Regions from separate parts of the Homo sapiens genome. Here region 2 is linked to region 1. The links come from fine-mapping of genetic effects on gene expression. Tissue or cell type: whole blood. Region 1 holds a variant in brackets; the other region holds the start of a gene. All regions are shown on one strand. Distances are from middle to middle.

Evidence for each region. PIP is the estimated chance that this variant, and not a neighbour inherited with it, causes the effect.
Region 2: it holds the start of TRIB2, and the variant in region 1 is fine-mapped to the expression of TRIB2 in whole blood (TOPMed, PIP 0.94).

The regions. Positions count from the first base shown.
Region 1 is chr2:11,884,816-11,889,002 of GRCh38, reverse strand. No RefSeq gene overlaps it. Among named protein-coding and RNA genes, the nearest start is that of MIR4262, 50 kb to the right of the region's middle. The variant G/A (reference allele first, on the strand shown) is at 1,882.
Region 2 is chr2:12,714,837-12,719,023 of GRCh38, reverse strand. It overlaps TRIB2 (tribbles pseudokinase 2), which reads right to left and starts at 2,088. Exons shown (of 3, transcript NM_021643.4): 1 at 447-2,088. The coding sequence starts at 716. LOC124905974 (a long non-coding RNA gene) reads left to right here and starts at 2,266. Exons shown (of 2, transcript XR_007086222.1): 1 at 2,266-4,187. RefSeq lists enhancers at 1-259, 1,621-1,690, 1,539-2,178 and silencers at 2,131-2,190, 2,281-2,500.

The DNA of each region.
Region 1 (4,187 bases):
TTATTCTTCTATCATTTTTTTCTCCATCCAACTTTCACTCAGATTTTGTCCTCTACCATTTGGTTCTGTATGACTCCAAATTTCTACTCTGGTATTATTTTCTTTCTTACCTTATTTTTGGAATCTGTTTTTTCCCCATAAAGGTAATGAAATTTCAATCAAAATATAATGGAATATCATGGGAGACTTAAAAAAAATCTTCTAAAATTTCCTATAGGAAAAAACATATAAGACTAAATGAGCCATTATGGGGAAGGGAGCAGAAAACAGTAGAAATGAAAGGAGAGAAGCCATGCAATAAAAGAAATTAAAATGAATTTTAAAACTAAGTTAATAAGAACAGAAAGAGTGTTTGCCTGTTTCCAAGATAGGCAGCCAAATCAAGGGGGCAGTATAATTTTGCTTATTCTTCAAAAGATATTTTGGGAGGGAAAAGGTTTCCACCAATGGCAATCAAACTCCTAGCTAACCATTTAGGAAAAAAATATCACACTAGAACCCTGGCTTACATTTTATAACCTGAACTCTAGATGATCTTTAAAGATATCATTTTTTTAATATGTAAAATTATTTAAATAAGAGTTATAAATATTTATATAATATTGATAAATAAGAGGACTTTCAAAGTATTTCACCAAAGACAAAAAGCATGAAGCCAAAATCTCAAAAATTTAACTCTATGTAAATCACCCAGAAAAGTAGGTACCCACAGCAATGGGAAAAGATACAAATAAAAAATTTACCAAACACACACACACACACACACACACACACACACAGGGAGGGATGTGGGGGGGGGGGGGCAAGAAAAAATAAAGCAAATACAAATGCCCAATTAACTTATAAAAAACTTTTAACCTCACTATAATCAAATGACTGTAAATTAAAGAAAACTCTTGATATGTTCTCAGCTTTTATCACTTGCTTCATAGACTATTTTTATGCATTTGTGAGATGGAAAAAGAGAGACTTGAACGGAGAGACTTGTAAGACCAGATGTTGGCAGAACATGAGGGAGATGGGTGAAGAGAGGACATAACATTAACTAGAATAACATAACTGTGCCTAACAATAAAAATACAACAGATGGCCAGGTGCGGTGGCTCACACCTGTAATCCCAGCACTTTGGGAGGCCGAGGTGGGTGGATCACAAGATCAGAAGATGGAGACCATCCCAGCCAACATGGTGAAACCCCATCTCTACTAAAAATACAAAAATTAGCTGGGTGTAGTGGTGTGTGCCTGTAATTCCAGCTGCTCAGGAGGCTGAGACAGGAGAATCACTTGAACCAGGGAGTTGGAGGTTGCAGTGAGCTGAGATCATGCAATGCACTCCAGCATAGAGACAGAGTGAGACTCCGTCTTAAAAAAAAAAAAAAAAAAAAAAAAAAAAAAACAGGGGGTGGAGCCAAGATGGCCAAATAGGAACAGCTCCAGTCTACAGCTCCCAGCATCAGTGACGCAGAAGATGGGTGATTTCTGCATTTCCAATTGAGGTACTGGGTTCATCTCACTGGGGAGTGCCAGACAGTGGGCGCAGGACAGTGGGTACAGCACACTGTGCATGAGCCGAAGCAGGGCAAGGCATTGCCTCACCCGGGAAGCGCAAGGGGTCAGGGAATTCTCTTTCCTAGTCAAAGAAAGGGGTGACAGATGGCACCTGGAAAATTGGGTCACTCCCACCCTAATACTGCGTCTTTCCAACAGGCTTAACAAACGACACACCAGGAGATTATACCCCACACCTGGCTCGGAGGGTCCTATGCCCACGGAGCCTCACTCATTGCTAGCACAGCAGTCTGAGATCAAACTGCAAGGCGGCAGCAAGGCTGAGGGAGGGGCGCCTGCCATTGCTCAGGCTTGAGTAGGTAAACAAAGCC[G/A]GGAAGCTCGAACTGGGTGGAGCCCACCACAGCTCAAGGAGGCCTGCCTGCCTCTGTAGGCTCCACCTCTGGGGGAAGGGCGCAGACAAACAAAAGACAGCAATAACCTCTGCAGACTTAAATGTCCCTGTCTGACAGCTTTGAAGAGAGTAGTGGTTCTCCCAGCACACAGCTTGAGATCTGAGAATGGGCAGACTGCCTCCTCAAGTGGGTCCCTGACCCCCAAGTAGCCTAACTGGGAGGCACCCCCCAGTAAGGGCGGACTGACACCTCACACAGTTGGGTACTCCTCTGAGACAAAACTTCCAGAGGAACAATCAGGCAGCAGCATTTGCGGTTCACCAATATCCGCTGTTCTGCAGCCACTGCTGCTGATACCCAGGCAAACAGGGTCTGGAGTGGACCTCCAGTAAACTCCAACAGACCTGCAGCTGAGGGTCCTGACTGTTAGAAGGAAAACTAACAAACAGAAAGGACATACACACCAAAAACCCATCTGTACATCACCATCATCAAAGACTAAAGGTAGATAAAACCACAAAGATGGGGAAAAAAACAAAGCAGAAAAACCAGAAACTCTAAAAATCAGAGCACCTCTCCACCTCCAAAGGAACGCAGCTCCTCCCCAGCAATGGAACAAAGCTGGACGGAGAATGACTTTGACGAGTTGAGACAGGAAGGCTTCAGAAGATCAAACTACTCTGAGCTAAAGGAGGAAGTTCGAACCAATGGCAAAGAAGTTAAAAACTTTGAAAAAAAAATAGATGAATGGATAACTAGAATAACCAATGCAGAGAAGTCCTTAAAGGACCTGATGGAGCTGAAAACCATGGCACGAGAACTACGTGACTAATGCACAAGCCTCAGTAACCAATGCGATCAACTGGAAGAAAGGGTATCAGCGATGGAAGACAAAATGAATGAAATGAAGCATGAAGAGAAGTTTAGAGAAAAAAGAATAAAAAGAAATGAACAAAGCCTCCAAGAAATATGGGACTATGTGAAAAGACCAAATCTACATCTAAATGGTGTACCTGAAAGTGATGGGGAGAATGGAACCAAGTTGGAAAACACTCTGCAGGATATTATCCAGGAGAACTTCCCCAATCTAGCAAGGCAGGCCAACATTCAAATTCAGGAAATACAGAGAACGCCAAAAAGATACTCCTTGAGAAGAGCAACTCCAAGCCACATGACTGTCAGATTCATCAAAGTTGAAATGAAGGAAAAAATGTTAAGGACAGCCAGAGAGAAAGGTTGGGTTACCCACAAAGGGAAGCCCATCAGACTAACAGCTGATCTCTCTGCAGAAACTCTACAAGCCAGAAGAGAGTGGGGGTCAATATTCAACATTCTTAAAGAAAACAGTTTTCAACCCAGAATTTCATATCCAGCCAAACTAAGCTTCATAAGTGAAGGAGAAATAAAATACTTTACAGACAAGCAAATGCTGAGAGATTTTGTCACCACCAGAGCTGCCCTAAAAGAGCTCCTGAAGGAAGCACTAAACATGGAAAGGAACAACCGGCACCAGCCACTGCAAAAACTTGCCAAATTGTAAAGACCATCAAGGCTAGGAAGAAACTGCATCAACTAACGAGCAAAATAACCAGCTAACATCATAATGACAGGATCAAATTCACATATAACAATACTAACCTTAAATGTAAATGGGCTAAACGCTCCAATTAAAAGGCACAGACTGGCAAATTGGATAAAGAGCCAAGACCCATCAGTGTGCTATATTCAGGAAACTCATCTCACGTGCAGAGACACACACAGGCTCAAAATAAAGGGATGGAGGAAGATCTACCAAGCAAATGGAAAACAAAAAAAGGCAGGGGTTGCAATCCTAGTCTCTGATAAAACAGACATTAAACCAACAAAGATCAAAAGAGACAAAGAAGGCCATTACATAATGGTAAAGGGATCAATTCAACAAGAAGAACTAACTATCCTAAATATATATGCACCCAATACAGGAGCACCCAGATTCATAAAGCAAGTCCTTAGTGACTTACAAAGAGACTTAGACTCCCACACAATAATAATGGGAGACTTTAACATCCCACTGTCAACATTAGACAGATCAATGAGACAGAAAGTTAATAAGGATATCCAGGAATTGAACTCAGCTCTGCACCAAGCGGACCTAATAGACATCTACAGAACTCTCCACCCCAAATCAACAGAATATACATTCTTTTCAGCACCACACCTATTCCAAAATTGACCACATAGTTGGAAGTAAAGCACTCCTCATCAAATGTAAAAGAACACAAATTATAACAAACTGTCTCTCAGAC
Region 2 (4,187 bases), 830 kb before region 1:
GGTTTAACACCTGCCCGCTGCTAAGAACAATGGCTGCGAAAAGAACGAAGTCATCAGTCTTAAAATTACCGGGGGATTCCCTAATCCTTGTTGGAAGGGGAGGGGGCTAGACACAGGAAGAAATCCCCCCCGGGCAGCGGGACCCGGCCTCGCGCAGAGAGCTCCTGGAGCCTTCGGTGCACGCGTGTCCGTGGCCCCCGCGCAGTCCCGCCGCCCTCTCCTCCCCGGGCTCTCCCCGAAACGCCCCCACTGCCGCCCGCCCCATTGTCTGAAACGGTCTAAAAACTTCGCAACTTACCGAACCTGAGCAAATAAATAAATAAACCCATTTAATAAGGCCACGGTAATTATCCCGCGAATCTCCCTCTCCCAGACTCGAGGGCCTGGCGCCCTCCCGCTCCCTCGGGCCCCTTCCAAAGACAAAAAGCAACCCACTGGCCCTTTACCTTGCACACCAGCTCCTCTCCGCTGTGCAGATGCACGGCACGAAAAACGTGGTCTCCCTCCAGAGGTTCCAACAATAAGTATTTCCCGATACAAGAAACGCAATGCGACAAGTTCGGAGTCTCGGGCGGGCTCGGGGAGCCGAGGTTCGGGCTGAAACTCTGGCTGGGCTCCGCGGACCTTATAGACGACAACTCTTCGAAATCCTGGGTTTTGTTCCGCGATCTCCCATATCTCGCTATTGTGATGGGGGTAGACCTGTGTATGTTCATGAGTGTGAGGATCGCACACGACAAACAAAAAAAAACCCGCTGGAGAGATGAGTCGCTGGCGAGTGCGGCTGCAGGCGCCTCGGTGCCACTGATTTTAAAAGGGAGCGAGAGGGGAGGGGACAGAAGAGGGGCTGCGTGGAGAAAGAGTTAGAAGCCCCCAAATGGGCGCCGCCGGATACCTCGTCTGCTCCGAGCCCGGCTCCCGGGGGTCCTCGGTCGGCAGGCAACTCGGGTCTTTTTGTTACCCCAAAGCAGTCGGCGATGTGCAGAATCGCCGCACTTTTAGTTACTCTGTGTGTGTGTCCCCGGCGTGGATCTGGATGAGTACCCGGGCTGCTAAGGTGCGGAGCTGCAGCGCCAGGGCTCCCGACGCGACCCCCAGGCCGGCTTCCGAATCGCAGACGGGGCGGAGGAGCCCGCGGTAGTTTGTGCAGTCTTCGGGGAGCTCACGGCGGCGACTCAGTCCCAACGCGTTAGAAGCCAAACAAAAAGAGAAAGGAAACAAGCACGGGTCTACCGGCTGGCGACGCACGGCAGCCAGAATCCGCGCTGCACCCCCTTTTTTTGGTGGAAAGGGTGGGGGGCGTGTAAGGGGGGGGTGCGGGAGAGGGCAGTTACCTACGTTTTAACTGTAGATGGCGTCTGAGGCTTTTCCAAGATCGCGAGCTCTCCAAAAATTAAACAAACAAACAAAAAAAAGAAAAATTGCAAGGGAGCATTTAACTTGGTGCGGTCAGCGCTGCCAACAAAAGATTGCAAAAGCTGGGCACAGAGTTGCGGCGCGGGCTGGGCGCAGGTACCGCGACAAAGCCCTGGGCTCGGCCCGCCGCGCGGAGGTCAGCACAGGCTCATGCTGTCGCCGCTCGCTCGCGCCCCAGGTCTTCCTCCGAATGCAGCCAGACGTGCAGGAGAGAACGAGGACAGATCGGCGGTCTCCGATTTCGCCGGCACGAGCTTGCGGGGGTCCTGCGGGCGCTGCAAGGGGAGCTGCGTCCCTGGCCCTTCCAACGCGCGGCGTTCCTTTGCCCCTTTCCCGCTGGAGAACTGGATCTCGTCCTGGAATAATTTGCAATCACCCCGTCTCCCCCTACCCCGAGACCAAATTGCCCGGTGGGGTTTGTTTTGGAGAAAATTGACGGCTTGTCTCCTCCTTCTTTGATTTCTTGCTTGCCCCCCCCAGAGAAAAGAGGGGACCGTGTATTTAAAAATTAAAGGGGACGGCCGACGGTGCCCGAGGCCAATCCCCGCGCTCAGCACGCCCGCATCCCCCGGCGAGGCGGTATTAATAGTTACTTACGTGGCCGGGGATCTCGGAGCGAGCGGGGCCGTGAGTGCGCGTGTGCGCGCGCGCGCCTCGCTCGCGCTCGGTCTCCCCATTCAATGTCACCGACACATTTCCACGGAGCCTCCGCCCCCCCCCCGCCGCCCCCGCGACTGGCTCAGCCCAGAGCCGGCCCCGCCCCGCCCCCGCCCGGGCCCCCCTCATTGCGCCGGGCGCCCATCAATCAGCCCCGCCGCTGCCAGTCCTCGGGCGGCTCCCCGCGCCGCTGCCATTGCAGCTCCGTGCCGGGGGCGCCAGCACCGGCCTCGCAGCTCCCTCGCCCGGCCGGGGAGGTAAACAAAGTGAAATATCCTTCCGCGGCCCGGGGCCCCGGGCGCAGCACCCTGGGTGTCGGCTGCGAGCCGGCTGCGAGCCCAGCTGCGGGCGGCTGGGCCGGGGTTACCAGCAGCGACTCCCGAGCCGTTCCCCACACGCTGCTCCCGCAGCGCCCGCTCCAGCTCTTCGTAGCTCGTTCATGTTCCTGGCGCTTTTCCCCAGAAAGCCAGGCACGCTCTGAGCATTGGGCCCCCAGGCTCAGATGTGGCCCTGAATGAGGAGCTCTGTTTTGGAAGAATGCGCTTTCATCGGTATTGCTGCCTGGAGTTTCGAGAATTCGTTTCATGGTATCTCTCCGACATCCTCCTCTCCATTTAAAAGGAAATCCATTGCTTCCTTTTAGTTGGTGTCACCGCTTGCCCCCGATCCCCACATCCTGGGCTTGTATTTCTAGTGTTTTCAGCAGAAGAGGAACTGAAGGCATCTTTTGATTCAGGTCAAATTTAATCACTAATTCTTCCCTTCCCAGTGCATTGCCTGGAGGGCCTTGGAGGCCAAGCTAGACAAAACTTTGCACCCACACCTCCAGGGAGCGCTGTTGGGTCCTATCCAGGGTGCTGGGCGTCCTGAGTCCTCTTCTGTTAGCCAGGTGAAGGCTGCAGTTTCACGCCCCACTCCACCCCCCATTTCGCCACCCCCCCCGAATTATTCGTAACTTCCTTGGGAGATTCCAGTCCGCGGGCTTGGACAGGAACACCGGAAGCAAGGGGCTTGAACTCAGGCAGAGGCTTCAAACGCCAGCCTTGATCTAAGATATCCTGGTGAATGAGAAGCGATCTAGTAGAGGACAAACTTAAAAAAAAAAATCCCAAGGAACTGAGAAAGGGGAGTTGGGACGACTCCTGGAGCCCTCTGAGCTTTTGCATGCGTGTAGTATATTTTCCACTGGAGGAGGGGACTAAATTATTGTCCACTGTAGGACACTTTCAGTAAAAGAAGGGAGCTATTTATAATTATGTCCACTTGGGACAACAGTCACTCTAATGATCAGGAGTCCTGGGAATGTGGCCAGAGATGGAGAGGACATTGACTATAAAGCTTCCACCCAGCAGCACAGAGTTAAAAGGAAGGTTAAGAAGTGGACCCGTGCCTTCCAGCACCTCTCACCATCCTACTCCCCACAAACCTGCCTAGGATTCAGTCCCAGATCCCAGCAGAATAGATCTATTTCCCTAGGCGATCACCAGGACCACTGACCGAGCAGGGTCCCCTAATCCAGTCTTACCCCAGGAAGACACTTGGCCTGTGTTAGGAACAGTCTCGAAGCAACCCCTGCTGTTGAGTCAGAAAGAGAGGTGCCTAGCCTCCTCTATGCAGTGGCCAAGAGAGCTTTGTAATAATTAGGGGTTGGGACACCTGTGTGCTAGCCCTGGCTGGGTCTCTGATTTCAAATGGAAATTGGGTGAAGACCTTGTTTTTTCTCCCTAGATCCCTGTTTCTTCATCTGTAAGATGAGAAGCATAATACCCGCCCTGCTCACCTCATGTGGTTGCTTTAGAATTATATTTTCAATTCCAGGAAATCTATGAAGGCTTACTATAAGCCGGGCTCTGTGCTGAGTGTTAGGGATCCAATATGAGTAAGATCTGGTCTCTGCCACCCAAGAGCGCAGGGTCTAGCCCGGCAGAAAGACTGGGAAACAAATAATGTCATTGTGTAACAATGTGGCAATTAGAATATCAAGGCCTCAAGGGAGCATGGAGGAGGGAATGACTTTTCCTGAACGTCAGGGAGTTTTCCCAGAAAATGTGATTTTTATTACCTTGAACTAATCCAGAGCAAATATTTATTGAAACCTACTATGTGCCAGACAC